Linked DNA regions of Homo sapiens. The protein of the gene in region 2 purifies or fractionates together with the protein of the main gene of each other region. This does not show direct contact. Each region holds a gene or a part of one and is shown on either strand. Other genes may lie near its edges.

Region 1 (3,500 bases), on a different chromosome or scaffold from region 2:
GGGGTGCTGCAGACTTCCTGCCATGCACAGGACGGCCCCCCCACAGACAGGAATGACCCAGCACCAGATTTCAGCAGGTTCAGAAACTGCTTAAACCGACTAGACTTGAGGCATCTGGGGCTGTCTCTGAACCAAAAGCACGTACCCCGTCTTCTGTGGGCAGGAAGAAGGAGAGGCAAGCCCTGGACCACTGGGCTTTCATGTACAAATAGGAAACAGCCCCTATGTCTACTGGAGAAGCGGGCTGTGTCCACATAGCCACCTCCACGGCCCCTCAGCCTGGCAGGGGAGGAGGCAGCCTCCGCAGATGGGGCCGCTGACCCGCTGCCTTTCTCTCCACCGCCTGGGGTAGGTACAAAGACGATGCCGACAGCCCCACCGAGGACGGCGACAAGCCCCGGGTGCTCTACAGCCTGGAGTTCACCTTCGACGCCGATGCCCGCGTGGCCATCACCATCTACTGCCAGGCATCGGAGGAGTTCCTGAACGGCAGGGCAGTGTGAGTCCCGCGGGCGGCTGGCACCGGCCTGGCTGGGGGCCCCAGACTCCTGGGGGAGGCTTCTGTCCACCTTACTAACCAGAGGGAGAAAACCAAACCGTGCTCTTTGACCATACTCCCAGGACTTTACCACGATGTGAGGGGTTTCTCCCACCCCAGGGACTCCCCACTTTTCTGCGGGAACCAGCTGGGGTCCTTTGACTGGTTTCAGTTCCAACGCTGCCTGGAGGTCATGCAACCCCTGCACTTTGAGGGCCCAGTCCCACAAGACTGCCCCACTTCAGATGCCACTCATAAGCCCCCGCTGTCACCTGAACTTCTCAGCAACCAGCCATAAATCAGGCTCCCACAGTCCCCTCCTCAGGCTTGATGAGTTGCTAGTGTGGCTCACAGAACCCAGGGAAACACTTGGCTGGTGTTTGTTGGTTTATTGTAAAGGATTCAGATGAAGAGGTTCACAGGGTGAGGTGTGGGGGAAGGGGTGGGGCGCACCACCTTCCTCGTATTCAGCAAACCAGAAGCTCTCCTGAAAACCCCATTTCAGGGCCTTTTCTGGAGGCTTCATCACGTAGGCAGGATTGATGATTAACTCCATCTCCAGCCCCTGTCCCCTCCCTGGAGGATGGGGCTGGGCTGAAATTCAGTTCCAGGTTTTTGTTTTGTTTTTGTTTTGTTTTGTTTTGAGACGAAGCCTCACTCTGCTGCCCAGGCTGGCGTGCAGTGGCACAATCTTGGCTCACTGCAACCTCCGCCTCCCGAGTTGAAGCAATTCTCCTGCCTCAGCCTCCTGAGTAGCTGGGACTACAGGCACGTGCCACCACGCTTGGCTAATTTTTGTATTTTTAGTAGAGATGGGGGTTTCGCCATGTTGGCCAGGATGGTCTCAATCTCTTGACCTCATGATCTGTCCATCTCAGCCTCCCAAAGTGGTTTTTGTTTGTTTTTGAGACAGAGTTTCGCTCTTGTTGCCCAGGCTGGAGTGCAATGGTGTGATCTTGGCTCACTGCAACCTCCGCCTCCTAGGTTCAAGTGCTTCTCCTGCCTCAGCCTCCCGAGTAGCTGGGATTACAGGCATATGCTACCATGCCTGGCTAATTTTGTATTTTTAGTAGAGACGGGGTTTCATCATGTTGGTCAGGCTGGTCTCAATCGCTCGACCTCAGGTGATCCACCTGCCTCGGCCTCCCAAAGTGCTGAGATTACAGCCGTGAGCCCCCATGCCCGGCCCACCTGGCCCAGGTTTTTGTTTGTTTTTCCTCGGGAGCTCTTAGACGACACTTCCAAGTCTCTAATCATGGCTTGGTCTTTCTGGCAGCCAGCCACCTCCAGGAGCCAAGAGTCACCTCACTGGCACATAAGACACTCCTACCACCCGGGAAATTCCAAGGGTTTGGAGTTCTGTGTTGGGAGCAAAGGTCAAGGAACAAATATTAGAACAAAAGAGGCTCCTAGCACCCCTGTTGCTGAGGAAATGACAAGGGTTTTAGAGGACTCTGTGTCAGGAACTGGGGCTGGGACCAAATATTTATTTTTTATTGTGTCATAATTAGATATTTGTACTTTCAGAGGTTTTATTTGAGATAAGGGTCCTTCTGGCCCTGAAAGTTTGAAAACTGCAACTTCAGCAGGAGCTGGCAGGACTGCCTCCAGGCTACAAGGGCACATGTGCCCCAAGTGGCTTTAGAGACAGGCAAGAGCGTGCCCCCTGCCTTCCTGCACTGGAGCACACCGCTCAGTGGTCAGCTTTGCATCTGGGGATAGGGTGTGGTTGAGAGCCTAGGCTTTGAATGCTGTCCCCGCTGAGTGGCTTGGGGGCACATGACTGCTTGTGCCTCTGTGTCCTCAGCTGGAAGTTCGGGTGGGTGGTGTGAGGAGGGGACCATGTGTCCTGTGCACAGCCCCTCGCGTGACAGGTGCTCTTGAAAGGAGCCTGAGTGCTCGAGTTGAGGGGCTGGTGGAGACGACTTATGTGGGGAGGTTCTTAGGGACCTGCCACCAGGTGAGGCCGCCCTTGGGCTCTGGCCTTGGGCTCCCCGGCAGCCAGGGCTCCTCCTGTGGAGCAGCACTTTGGGGAGGAACAGGTTCCTTTTTCTAGACTTTGTTCTTTGAGGCTCTACCTTGCCCCGGCACTTGATTATATTTCTTTAATGACACTAGTAATGCATGCCTGTGTGCTATGACAGGCGTCGAATTCTTGGGCGTAGGAGCATTTGGAGTGACCAGGGCAGGCCCCTCTGTCCCCTCCTTGCACCCCACTGCTTGGGGTTGAGTGTTTGACACCCACGGGGCCTGGTGCCCTCCTCGGGCCTGGCCGACATGGTGGAGGAGCTGGGTTGTGGCGAGGTGTCCAGGGGCTGCCACAGAGAGGGTGTGGGCTGAGGACACAGGCCAGTGTAAGTTGTCTATCCGCTGCCCCCCAGTGCTCCAGCTGTCAGGGGCTGGGTGACCATCTCAAGTGCACTTGAAGAGAGGGTCCCGCTGCTACCAGAAAGGCTAGAGAGAGCAGAGAGGGTGCCCTGCCAGCCCTGGCTGGTGTCACCCTCTCCTAGACCCCTGCGGGCTAGTGATGAGAGAAATGCCACAGTCCCCCCCTCTCAGGACCTGGCACAAGGCCAGCTTCCCCTCCCAGCAGGAATCACAGAGCAGGAACAGCTCCAGTGCCACTGTCCCCCTCTGTCAGGACCTGGTACGAGGCCTGCTTCCCCTCCCAGCGGGGATCACAGAGCAGGAACAGCTCCAGTGCCACTGTCCCCCTCTCTCAGGACCTGGTACGAGGCCTGCTTCCCCTCCCAGCAGGCATCACAGAGCAGGAACAGCTCCAGTGCCACTGTCCCCCTCTCTCAGGACGCGGTGCAAGGCCAGCTTCCCCTCCCAGCAGGGATCACAGAAAAGGACCTGGAGGCTCCAGGACCTGGAGGCTGTGCCCAGGCACCCGGACACCATCCAGCCTGCCAGTGCTCCATCCATTTGAGCTGCAGGGCAAGCCACCCTCCCTGCCTCC
Region 2 (3,500 bases):
TGCTCTGTAATCTTTAAGCTTCCCAACAGAAGTCTCCTCTGCCAAAAGAGGCAGCGTTAGGCACACACACACATGCAAGCTCTGAGCCTGGCCCTCTGTGGCCCCAGCAATCCTGCTGAACATCCTGTTCCCCTACTTAGGGAGAGGCTGGGCCCAGAGTTGGGTAAGAGTGAAGACAAGGTAGCTGGCTCCCTTCCCCCAAGGACCAGTTGCCTTGCCTTGGTCCTTGGACCAAGCAAGAAGGCACAGTCCATGCCCACCTCCATTCCTGGGAGAAACATACATTCACAATATTCCCAGCCCGTGCCCTGTGGACAGCAGGGGGAGCATTGCTGCTATGGACAGCAGGGGGAGCATTGCTGCTACTGTTTCTCTTCTCAGCCTCTCAAGTGTTGCCTGGGCCAGGCGCAGTACGGAGTACTGCCTGAGTCCCAGCTCTGCATCACCTAACTGGTGGCTTGGCCCCTCTGGACCCCCTGTTCTCCCTCTGTATGTAATAAAATGAAGGGATTGGGCCAGATACCCTTGTAAGACCCCTTCCACCTCTACTGTGTGACTGCCCCATTTTCCTCTTGTGCGTGGAGGGCCCTTCTGAGCTGATTCCATGGTTGCTAGCATGTTCATAGTATCCCCACCGTCTGTGTCCTGGCTCTGTGGATCCCTCAGGAGACCACTGCTGTGCTGTATGTTCCAGGGGATCCTTTCAGATGATCATGGGCTGGCCGCTGCCCTCTGGAGAACCTTCTTCAACCGGAAATGTGAAGACCCTCGACATCTTGAATTGCTGGTAGAGTATGTGAGGAAACAGGTGAGTGACCCTTTCCCTCCCCTCCCAAGTCCTGGCAACAGTGGGTCCTCCTCTTGGGCTTTCAGGGGATCATGAGAGGTGGAGTTACCAAGGACCAGCCTGAGAGAATTCTGACCAGATCACATCAGCACTAGACGCTGAAGAAGGAGCGCCTTCTGTATGTCCAACCATGAACTGGGCCAGGGAGCGGGAAATGGGAAGAGAGAGAGAAAGAGGCATCGAGTAGTCTCCTGCCCTCAGGAACTTTGAGTCATTCATTCACTGTGCACCTCATTGCCTACTGTGCGCCCAGTGCTATGCTAGCAGCTGGGCCCACAGAGTCCTGGCAGATATGAGCACGTGGTGTAGTAGCAGCTGCCCACTGTGGACCCCTTCTCTACCCACTTGGATTTGTTTCCTGCTCCTGACTTCCAGCAAAACTGGGCAGCAGGCAGCATTTCACAGACAGCCTCTTCCTGCTAGATGCTCTCCACAGTCAAGTAGAGTCCCCCCACTTCAGTTTCTCACCCCTCTGGCTCCCCAGGGCTCCCCGACATCAAAGCTTCTACGAGAAAGCTCCGCAGTGGGGGCTGCTTACCCACATAGCTGTCCTCAAGCCCCGGGGAATTAATTCCTTGACCTCCCTGCCCTCAGATCCTGTATTGATGGGAAACTCATACTTGATAGATGAGTGAGCTGACTGGCAGCGAAGAGGACATAGAGGCTCTTCCAGGGCCTCCCAGTGAGTCAGCCTGCACAGCTGCCCTAGGGCCCCAAGCTGTGTGATTCATGTGACCACTGAGGCCTCAGCTGCCTCAGACAGCTCAGGCTGTGCCATGAGTCACACCTTTGCTTCATGGCCTGGCCCCTGGAGCTGAAGGGGTGTCACGCCACAGTTACTCTCTTGTTCACTTGTATTCATGGTCTTCAACAACCAGGAAAGGCAAGGCTGGACTTCAGCTCTTGAGAAGACAGGGCCCATAGGACTAGCTTGTTAACTGCTGGAAAAACCACATACTGGGGCTCTGCAGACCCACAGGGTAGAGAATCCCAGGAGCCAGGACTTCTGTTTGACCACTCTTCAAATCTGCTAGAGCCAGGGAGAGGGCACGGCATGGCCAGAGGGCCCCACTCACAGAGAATTCTGATACTCTGTTGACTGGACTCACCCTCAGACGGGAGTAGCAATTCGCAAAGCAAATGCTGTGTTTTCTGAGAGACCTGCCCAACATTTCCATCTGCCATGGTGGGCTTGTGCCAGAAGCCCCAACAAGACACACTGGGACTTCTCCGAGGGCCCTCTAGGAAGGGGCTGCCACAACCATTGTCCCTACAAGAGGTCCCATGTGGCCCCAGTGAGAGGCAGTGGAAAAACCGTGAAGGGGTTCTTGGGAAAGCAGGGAGCTTTGGTGGGGACCCAGTTCTATCAGCAAACCTTTTGAGCACCTGCTGCTCCATGTACTCTTGGGAAAGCAACGATTAATAAGACCCAGTCCTGCCCTCGAGGAGCCAGCTCATGGTTTGGTGAGGAAGCCCAGGCACACGGCTAACCCTGGAGTAAGCCAGCCTGTTATGTGATACAGGGAGGGCAGAGTGCTGAAGGCCGGGAAAGGAAGAGCAGGAGCTGGGCCTTGAGCAGACTGTTTGGTGTGGCCGATGGCCCAAGAGCCAACCAGAGGTTCTGTTGAGATTTTCAACCCAGGAGGTGGGCAGAGGGGTGGCACTGGGGGCAGAAATGGAGTCACTGTAAGGGAGGAGTGGGCTTTAGGGAAGAGATGGCAGGGCAGGTGGGAATCCAGAGCCAAGACACGTGCGAGAGGCTGGGGTTGAGTTCAAGCGTCAGCAGCTGGAAGCGGAAGCAACCAGAGTGGTGGATTCTTGGAAGGGGGAATGACCTAAAGCCTAAGATGAAGTCTCCTGGCCCTGCAGCAGTGGCTTCTCTGGATGATGACCATTTTAATGGCAGAGCTGTCTGCCCCTACTGTCCTAGAGAGGTGATACTGGGGCCCACTGACCAGGGGCCCACTAGAGGACAACAGAGGCATACATATGTTTAAAGCGTGAGTGCCTAGCACTGCATATATGCATATTGTTGAATCTCTTCATGTGTCCTGTGAGGTACCTGTTTCTATCCCCTCTCTCAAGACAAGGGAACTTAAATCTCAGAGAGGGGAAGCTGCCACCCTGGGTAGCAGCACTGGGAAGGGACAGAATCAGGACTCTCACCCAGCAGTGCTGGGGTGGACAGCATGGCTGTGTGCGCTGCAAGCCCTGACTTCCTGGCCTGCAGGAGCTGTCTAGGGAGGGCGTGTAGGGGAGACGTGTCCTTGGGAGGTGTGTGTCTGTCTCCATTCAGAGGTGTGATAGGGAATTCCCTAACTGCCCCCGCCACCCAGCTCCCCAGTGACTGCTTTCTCTGAACCACCTTAGTGAAATTATCTAGGAGATCAGAGACGGCTTGGCCTGGGACGGCTTGGTCTGGGACCTGGGATGGTCAGAAGCCCCCCTCATGCCCCGTCCCCTTCCTTCCTCTCCTCTGGGAGGCTGGTTCCTGACGCTGGCTCCTCACCTCTGCCCTGCCTCTGTCGCTTCCTCCTTCCCCCTCCCCTGGTTGCAGATACAGTACCTGGACTCCATGAACGGGGAGGATCTGCTTCTGACAGGGGAGGTGAGCTGGCGCCCTCTAGTGGAGAAGAATCCTCAGAGCATCCTG
Region 3 (3,500 bases), on a different chromosome or scaffold from region 2:
TGTGGGAAGGCCATTTGATCTCAGGAGAATCGTTGGTATTTCATCTGAAGGAAAGTATGTTCACATGCTGGCAATAAATTCCCTAGTGTACATAGATTTGGCTGATAAAATTACAATAAAAAATAAGTTTCTTTTCATCTTTGCTCAGGAGAAAAAAAATCTTAATTCTGATTACTTAATAACACCCTGTATGGAACTCTGAGTGACTTAGAGCTCATGCTGGATACTGTGTTTTTATTATATTGGTAAGGGTTAAAATACTTTTAGTTAGATCACTGATGGTAAATTATAAATGTTCAGATAGAACAGATGTTAGAGAGTTGTAGAAATTTCCCTATTTCTTGCTATTTTTTCCCTAGTGTAGTTTATATTTATGGTGGCTGTACTGATGAAGTTGAAGTTTTTTTTTAATATTAGATTTTGTAGGTTGCTATTTACTGATCTGCAGTTGGTCCCTTTTTCAGCTTGAACACACTCAGCTGTGACCCCGGTCACAGTAGGGGGTTCTGTGGAGCAGGCGGTTCATCATCCCGACCCAGTGCCGGGAGTCATAAGCAGTGTGGCCCATCGGTCCACCCACACAGCAGTCACAGCAATAGAAACTCAGCTGACGTGGAAAACGTCAGAGCCAAAAACAGTTCAAGTACCTCTAGTAGGACTTCTGCTCAAGCAGCTTCTTCACAGTCTGCTAACAAAACAAGCCCCCTTGTCTTAGATTCGAACACAGTGACTCAAGGTCATACAGCGGGCAGAAAGTCCAAAGGGGCAAAGCAGAGCCAGCACGGCAGCCAGCACCATGCCCACAGCCCGCTGGAGCAGCACCCTCAGCCTCCTCTGCCACCGCCAGTGCCTCAGCCCCAGGAGCCGCAGCCTGAAAGGCTGTCTCCCGCCCCCCTCGCACACCCTTCCCACCCAGAACGTGCCAGCAGCGCGAGGCACAGTTCCGAGGACTCGGACATCACCAGTCTCATAGAAGCCATGGACAAAGACTTCGACCACCATGACTCCCCAGCCCTAGAAGTGTTTACAGAGCAGCCTCCATCGCCATTGCCAAAAAGCAAAGGTAATCATCTCCCACTGCCGGAGATCCGTGATGTGTGAGGGAAAAGCCAGTGCGTGCTTAAGGAGCTATTAAGATTATAGTTGTGGTAAACAACTAATTCAGTAGGTTCCTCTGGCTCAGATTTATCTCCAGTGTTGGACTTCAACTTTTCCATAAAAATGCAATTAGAGGTATCTGTCATAAAAGATATATTTGTATTTCTTAGATTGTTTACCAAAATCAGAAATTCTGTGGACATCTGCTTTTCTTTTCAGCTGCCTGAGATTGTGTTATTGTGATAGATTTAGCTTTTGTTTTATTGTTAAAATAATTTTGAGCACAGGAGTAAAATGGAGATCATCTGCCTTTTAACTCCAAATTAGGATTTCTTTACTTTAGAGCAGGGGTTGGCAGACTACAGTTAGCGGGCCAAATCACCACCTGGTTTTATAAATAAAGTTTTATTGGAATAGAACCATGCTCATTTGTTGGTATATCCTCAGCTTTCATGCTTCTATGGCACAGTTAAGTAATTGTGACCAAAACAATATGGCCCACAGAGCTGAAAATATTTGCTATCTGGCCCTTTGCAAAAAAAGCCAACCCTGCTTTAGAGTTCTGCTTACTGTATTAATTACCTATTTCTGAGTAACAGATGACCTCAAAACCCAGGGGCTTAAAAGAACGTATACTCTTATCTCACAGTTTCTGTGGTCAGGGACATGAGTACAGCTTAGCGGGGTCCCATGGCCCTCACAGGACACAGGACTGCAGTCAAGGTGTTGGCCAAGGCTGATGTCATCTTAAGGTTCAACTGAAGGTGGACCTGCTTCCACGTTCACACAGGCAGTTGATGGTGGGATTCAGTTCTTCACGGACTGTTGGACGGAGGGCCCAAGCTCCTCCTTGCTGGCTGTGGCCAGAGGTCTGTCATGGTTCCTCTCCACAGAGCGGGTCACAGCTTGGCAGTTGGCTCCCCCAGAATGAGCAAACAAGAGGGCAAGGAGGAAGCAGGACGGAAGTCACTGTTTCTTACTATCTAATCTGGGAAGTGGCATCCCATCAATGTTGTAGTATTCTGCTCATTCGAAGTGTGGTCCAGCCCACACTCCAGGAGAGAGAACCGCGCAAGGGCATAAATACCAAGAGGTGGGCACCACTGGGAGCTTGGAAGTCTGCACCACACACAAATAGGTAGACCAGTTTGTAAGCTCCAGAATCAAAAGGTAAAAACCAGTAAATAGCCTCTAGTTGTATTGCAATTTCATCCCTTCACAGCCTGAGCTTTTTTGCATCTTCCTTTCTGTCTTGTGGCAGCCATGCTAATATACATTATTCCAAGCCTGTATCAGTCCCTTCCAGAATGGTTTACCAAGGAGTTTTGGGCTTCAATTTATACGGAAAACAGGGATCTTGGCAGCCCTAAGAGGCCAGAAGAAACTTGACATCCCAGAGTCAAGGAGTTTTAGATAATTTTTTAGTCCCAGGAATACAAAAACTAGCTCTATTGAGTTCTCTTGGAATTACACGCATTCGGATTTGTAAAACAGTAAGATGTCTTGAATATGATTGGTTAACCTCTTCTACAGAAATCCTTTTTGGCTAACCCATTATTAACTGAGCTTACATATTTTAGGGTAATTTTTAGAATAATCTTAAGTGAATACTTAAAAGTTCTTTTTTAATTAGATCAAGTTACATAGCGTTTTCCCCACATTTAGGGCGTGAATAAAATAAATCTGTATTATCCTTTCTTATCACAAAGAAAGAGTTGGGCAGTCAAATTGACTACCTCATTCCTGTGTCAACACAGTCTTCCAACACCAGCGTGATGGGCCAATTCTATTTTCAGGGTCACTCATTGAGAACCTAAATTTTAAAATGAAATGCTTTTTAATTTTCACAGTGGTCCTAGAGTCAACCTACTAAGAGATACTCAGTGAGGGAGCATGGATGCCACATTATTGGTGACTCTTGAGCCTGTGAGGAGACAGTGGTTAGAAGCTTTGCAGGCGCGGCTACTCTACTCACTATCCTTCCCACTGATGCTGTTTGGGAAAAAGGAAGGAGCCTGTATCTATATTTTTTTTCTTCTTCAATGTTTTTATTGAAGTATAGCATGCATATAGACAGACAGTCTTTAAAATGAACTTTAAAAGGTGGGCATTGATCTTGGGGTTGCAAACTAGTAGTATGTTGTGAAACTATAGGCTTCCAGCTGGGCAAAACCTTTATAATCTTTCAAAAGCCTACCCCCACACCCCTGCAAATAGCAGATTTACATTAAATAGTAACATTCTCTTTTTAGAGGCAACACGTTCTTTTTTTTCTCCCCCTGGTATCTCATACTAAAATTATTTCTTATAATGAGCTTATGTAGTTTCTGGTTTTTGGAAGCTGCTCAGGATGACCTCTTCAAGTGAATGTGTTTATCTCCCTGGATCTTGCCTTCTGCGGT
Region 4 (3,500 bases), on a different chromosome or scaffold from region 2:
CAACAGAGCAAGACTCCGTCTCAAAACAAAACAAAACAAAACAAAAAAACTGAACAATCTCTTTCTCTAGATTTCCATATGATTTTGTTTAATCTTCTGTCCTTTGCATTGCAGAAACACACACACAGAAATTCACAAGAGTGTGAGGTATGGGACTGAGCATGCACAGGACCCATTTTCAATATTTAGCCCATATACACCCATGTGTGCATGTACACACACACACACACACACACACACACACACACACACACACACTCGGCATCTGCCACTCAGAATGTCTGAGGCGACATGTCTAGCTCTTCTTTACCCAGTAAATGGCACCAGTTCTCAGGCCCAAGAGATACTGAAGAGGTGCCTTGGAAATAAAGCAAACCTAGGGATGTGTTGTTTCTCATCCCTCCCTTCTCTGGCAATCCTAGTTCCTTTTTCTTTCAAGTGACAAGTGGCAGCGGCCCGTGGAGGCCTCTCCTTTGCTCTGTCCCAGGCGGTGATGGCACCAGACATGCAGGGTAGGTGAGGCAATGCGGAGGCACAGATGCAGAGCACATCTAATGGTCGTCAGCAGTCATGGCAAGTGACCAGGAAATCCCAAGCCTCCCGGCATTGTCCAAGTCACTTATGCACAGAATAAGTCTGTTCCCCTTGTGATCCCATTGTGTATTTTCTCACATACCCTCGCCTAAACCCTTCTCCAGTCCTCCCTGGTGGAGCTAACCACACCACACAGTTCTGTGCTTTTCATGGTCAAATTTCCCTTTGTCTAAGTGCTTCCAGCATCATGATATCACCATCTCAGGGAAGGGCCCTGTTGCTGGCATCCAAGAGTGGTCCATACTCACACAGCCATTGATCAGGCCTCTGTCAAACTCTTGGCTTGTTTCATTTGATTCCTAGAGTTCCAAGTCTAAAGTCATTTACTTTTTTCTTGCTCTTTATTTTGTCTCTCTTCCATAATGTCCCACTGACCTCTACACTAGCCCCTGAATTCACTGACCTCATTTATTATCTGCTAATTACCTGTGTACAGTTCCCCCCTTCAACATGACATATTTCTATTTTGATCAACATGTCCGCATATAAGGCAACCGAACTGATCTCGAATAGTTTTCCTGCTGCCTGAAGCCCAGCCAGTGCCTGACCTCACCACCTTGTTCCTGCTTGCTAGCAAATAGAGGAATAATTGAATTGCAATCTTGAACAATGGGAGGTGGCCAGGTGCTGTCTCCCTTTCTAAATATATTAAAACTGACCCAAAGAAGGAAACCACTGCGGTCACTAGACTCAAGAGTTGTAGATATGGGTCAGGCGCCGTGGCTTATGCCTGTAATCCCAGTACTTTGGGAGGCCGAGGTGGGCAAATCACCTGAGGTCAGGAGTTTAAGACAAGCCTGGACAACACGGCAAAACCCCATCTCTACTAAAAATACAAAAATCAGCCAGGCGCAGTGGCAGGCACCTGTAATCCCAGCTACTTGAGAGGCTGAAGCAGGAGAATCACTTGAACCCGGGAGGTGGAGGTTGTGGTGAGCAGAGATCGTGCCACTTCACTCCAGCCTGGGTGACAGAGCTAAACTCTGTCTCAAAAAAAATAAAAAAAGATTTGTAGATCTGGCATTTTCCCACCTTCAGAGAGCCAGAGGGCCTCTGAGTTCATTTCCGTGGAGCTGGACCATGGACAATGTCCATAAACGCCGTAAAATGTCAAGGGAAGACAAGCAGTGGCCAGGTGCTGGACAACCCCAGCAGGACCCATCTTCCCAAGACACAGAGCATTCCTATGGGAGCCTGTATCCTTTTGATTAAAAAAATTTGATTTCTCCCTTATTTGAGTGCCAAGTGGTTGAGATAGTTCCTTTTGCTTTCCTATCCACAAACATCTAAGTGGAAAAGCTAAACCCGCATGGTCTGAAGGAAAAGGAATAGGCTAAATAAGATCTTTACTTAATCCCTTAATAGCCGGGTCCCACTGCAAGCTGTGAACCATGTATTCACCTTTATAACTGCACAGTGTACTTAATGTTTGTTGAATTTAATTAAAAATCTGTTCTATTTAATGGAAGGAGATCTGTAGCTGGACAAACTTTAATTCCACAAAAGTTCTTTGCATCCCATTAACTTTACAGTCAGTACTGCCTTTTACTCAGCCAATAATTGTGCTTAATTGGAACGTTATTTTAAATAATGGTCTCAAGTTATAGCCACACTGTAAATTTTTACTACCAGGGTAATTTAAACAAATGATCGTTTCAGATTCAACACTGTCTTGCAAACTGTCAAGTTTCTTACTACCCTCTGGGTCAGTGTGTCATACAAGATGAGCTTGAAAAACCACTGAAACACTTTCATGACTGATGAAATATTAAGATGTTTATGTTAAAAGATAGCCCCTATGTTGCAGTTAAAATTGTAAGGAGTTGGAACTTCAGAAAATATGAATGCCTGGCCAATTAGCAACAGAGATAAGACAGAGTTGTAGAATAAAGTATAGTGTTCTTCCCGGCAGGAGTTGTATACTGGCCTGGACTGTGGGGAAGACAGTTATTTGTGAAGAAGCATCTTCCCGTGGTTGGTTCAGGTTCAGGGGTTACATTTCTCACGTTATAAACGTCCATTAATAATAGCTCAGTGTTGCCACCAGGTGGCAGCAGAGAAAGGAAGGCAGAATTGAATCAGCTTTTTTTTTTTTTTTTTTTTTTTTAATTGACACCTAGACATTCCATTTAACAAATTCTGGCTTTTTATCGAAAATAGATGTATCCTTATTAATCCAATGAAAGTAAAACAAAAAACCTAAAACAGTTATAAACATTCATTCAACACCATTCAAACATTCATTCAACACGGTCATTTATTGAGCCCCTGCTACTCTCCTAGGTACTGGGGCTACAGAGATTAAGAAGTAGCCCTGTCCCTCAGAAGCTCACGGTCTCATGGGAAGTAGACAAATGCTCAGATCACTGAAATACCATTGGATGGGTACTTTATTAGAAGAACATGAAAGACGCTTGCCAAAGGGGGAGGCAGCTGCTCTTCCGCCCTTTCTTGAATCTTCTACTTCTGTGCTTCAACCTATCCCTTAAATGTACCTGGTGTAGCAGGCTAGTTTGTCAGGCAGGTACTTTCATTCCAGTTTAATGACCTAGACAGCCTCCTCCCTCCAAAATATACATGCACATATCTACCCAAACCCAATTCTTTCTCTAGAACGAAGCTTGGCCCATTTAGGACACTTTCTCTTTGACGCTTCCAGAGAACTTTAGAAAAGTTACTATTTGTGTTCCTTCTATAATCATTCCCCTGCCTAGGGAATCTCTCTTTTGTTATCTTGAACTATAATGAAGATGCTTTGTATCTGCCTTTGAGCATATTTAGACCGTGTCCACAAATAGATTATTGATTCCTTTTAGGGCAGGCTCTTCTTTGCACCCCCACAGTTCCTAGCAAAGACCTGTGAGGTAGGTGTGTGTAAACCCTCAAATGAAGGGGGAGCGTAAGTG

What was found.
Region 1: the proteins of UQCC1 (region 2) and MGRN1 purify together in Homo sapiens (affinity purification with mass spectrometry; one large-scale study listed by BioGRID and IntAct). This does not show direct contact.
Region 3: the proteins of UQCC1 (region 2) and TMEM131 purify together in Homo sapiens (affinity purification with mass spectrometry; one large-scale study listed by BioGRID and IntAct). This does not show direct contact.
Region 4: the proteins of UQCC1 (region 2) and THSD4 purify together in Homo sapiens (affinity purification with mass spectrometry; one large-scale study listed by BioGRID and IntAct). This does not show direct contact.

Annotation. Positions count from the first base shown.
Region 1 is NC_000016.10:4,652,326-4,655,825, forward strand, and holds part of MGRN1 (E3 ubiquitin-protein ligase MGRN1), read left to right. Parts: intron 1-352; coding exon 353-499; intron 500-3,500. UniProt on the Homo sapiens protein: E3 ubiquitin-protein ligase. Mediates monoubiquitination at multiple sites of TSG101 in the presence of UBE2D1, but not of UBE2G1, nor UBE2H. Plays a role in the regulation of endosome-to-lysosome trafficking.
Region 2 is NC_000020.11:35,303,974-35,307,473, reverse strand, and holds part of UQCC1 (ubiquinol-cytochrome c reductase complex assembly factor 1), read left to right. Parts: intron 1-694; coding exon 695-808; intron 809-3,404; coding exon 3,405-3,500. UniProt on the Homo sapiens protein: Required for the assembly of the ubiquinol-cytochrome c reductase complex (mitochondrial respiratory chain complex III or cytochrome b-c1 complex). Involved in cytochrome b translation and/or stability.
Region 3 is NC_000002.12:97,789,949-97,793,448, reverse strand, and holds part of TMEM131 (transmembrane protein 131 precursor), read left to right. Parts: coding exon 1-54; intron 55-464; coding exon 465-1,063; intron 1,064-3,500.
Region 4 is NC_000015.10:71,741,471-71,744,970, forward strand, and holds part of THSD4 (thrombospondin type-1 domain-containing protein 4 isoform 1 precursor), read left to right. Parts: intron 1-3,500. UniProt on the Homo sapiens protein: Promotes FBN1 matrix assembly.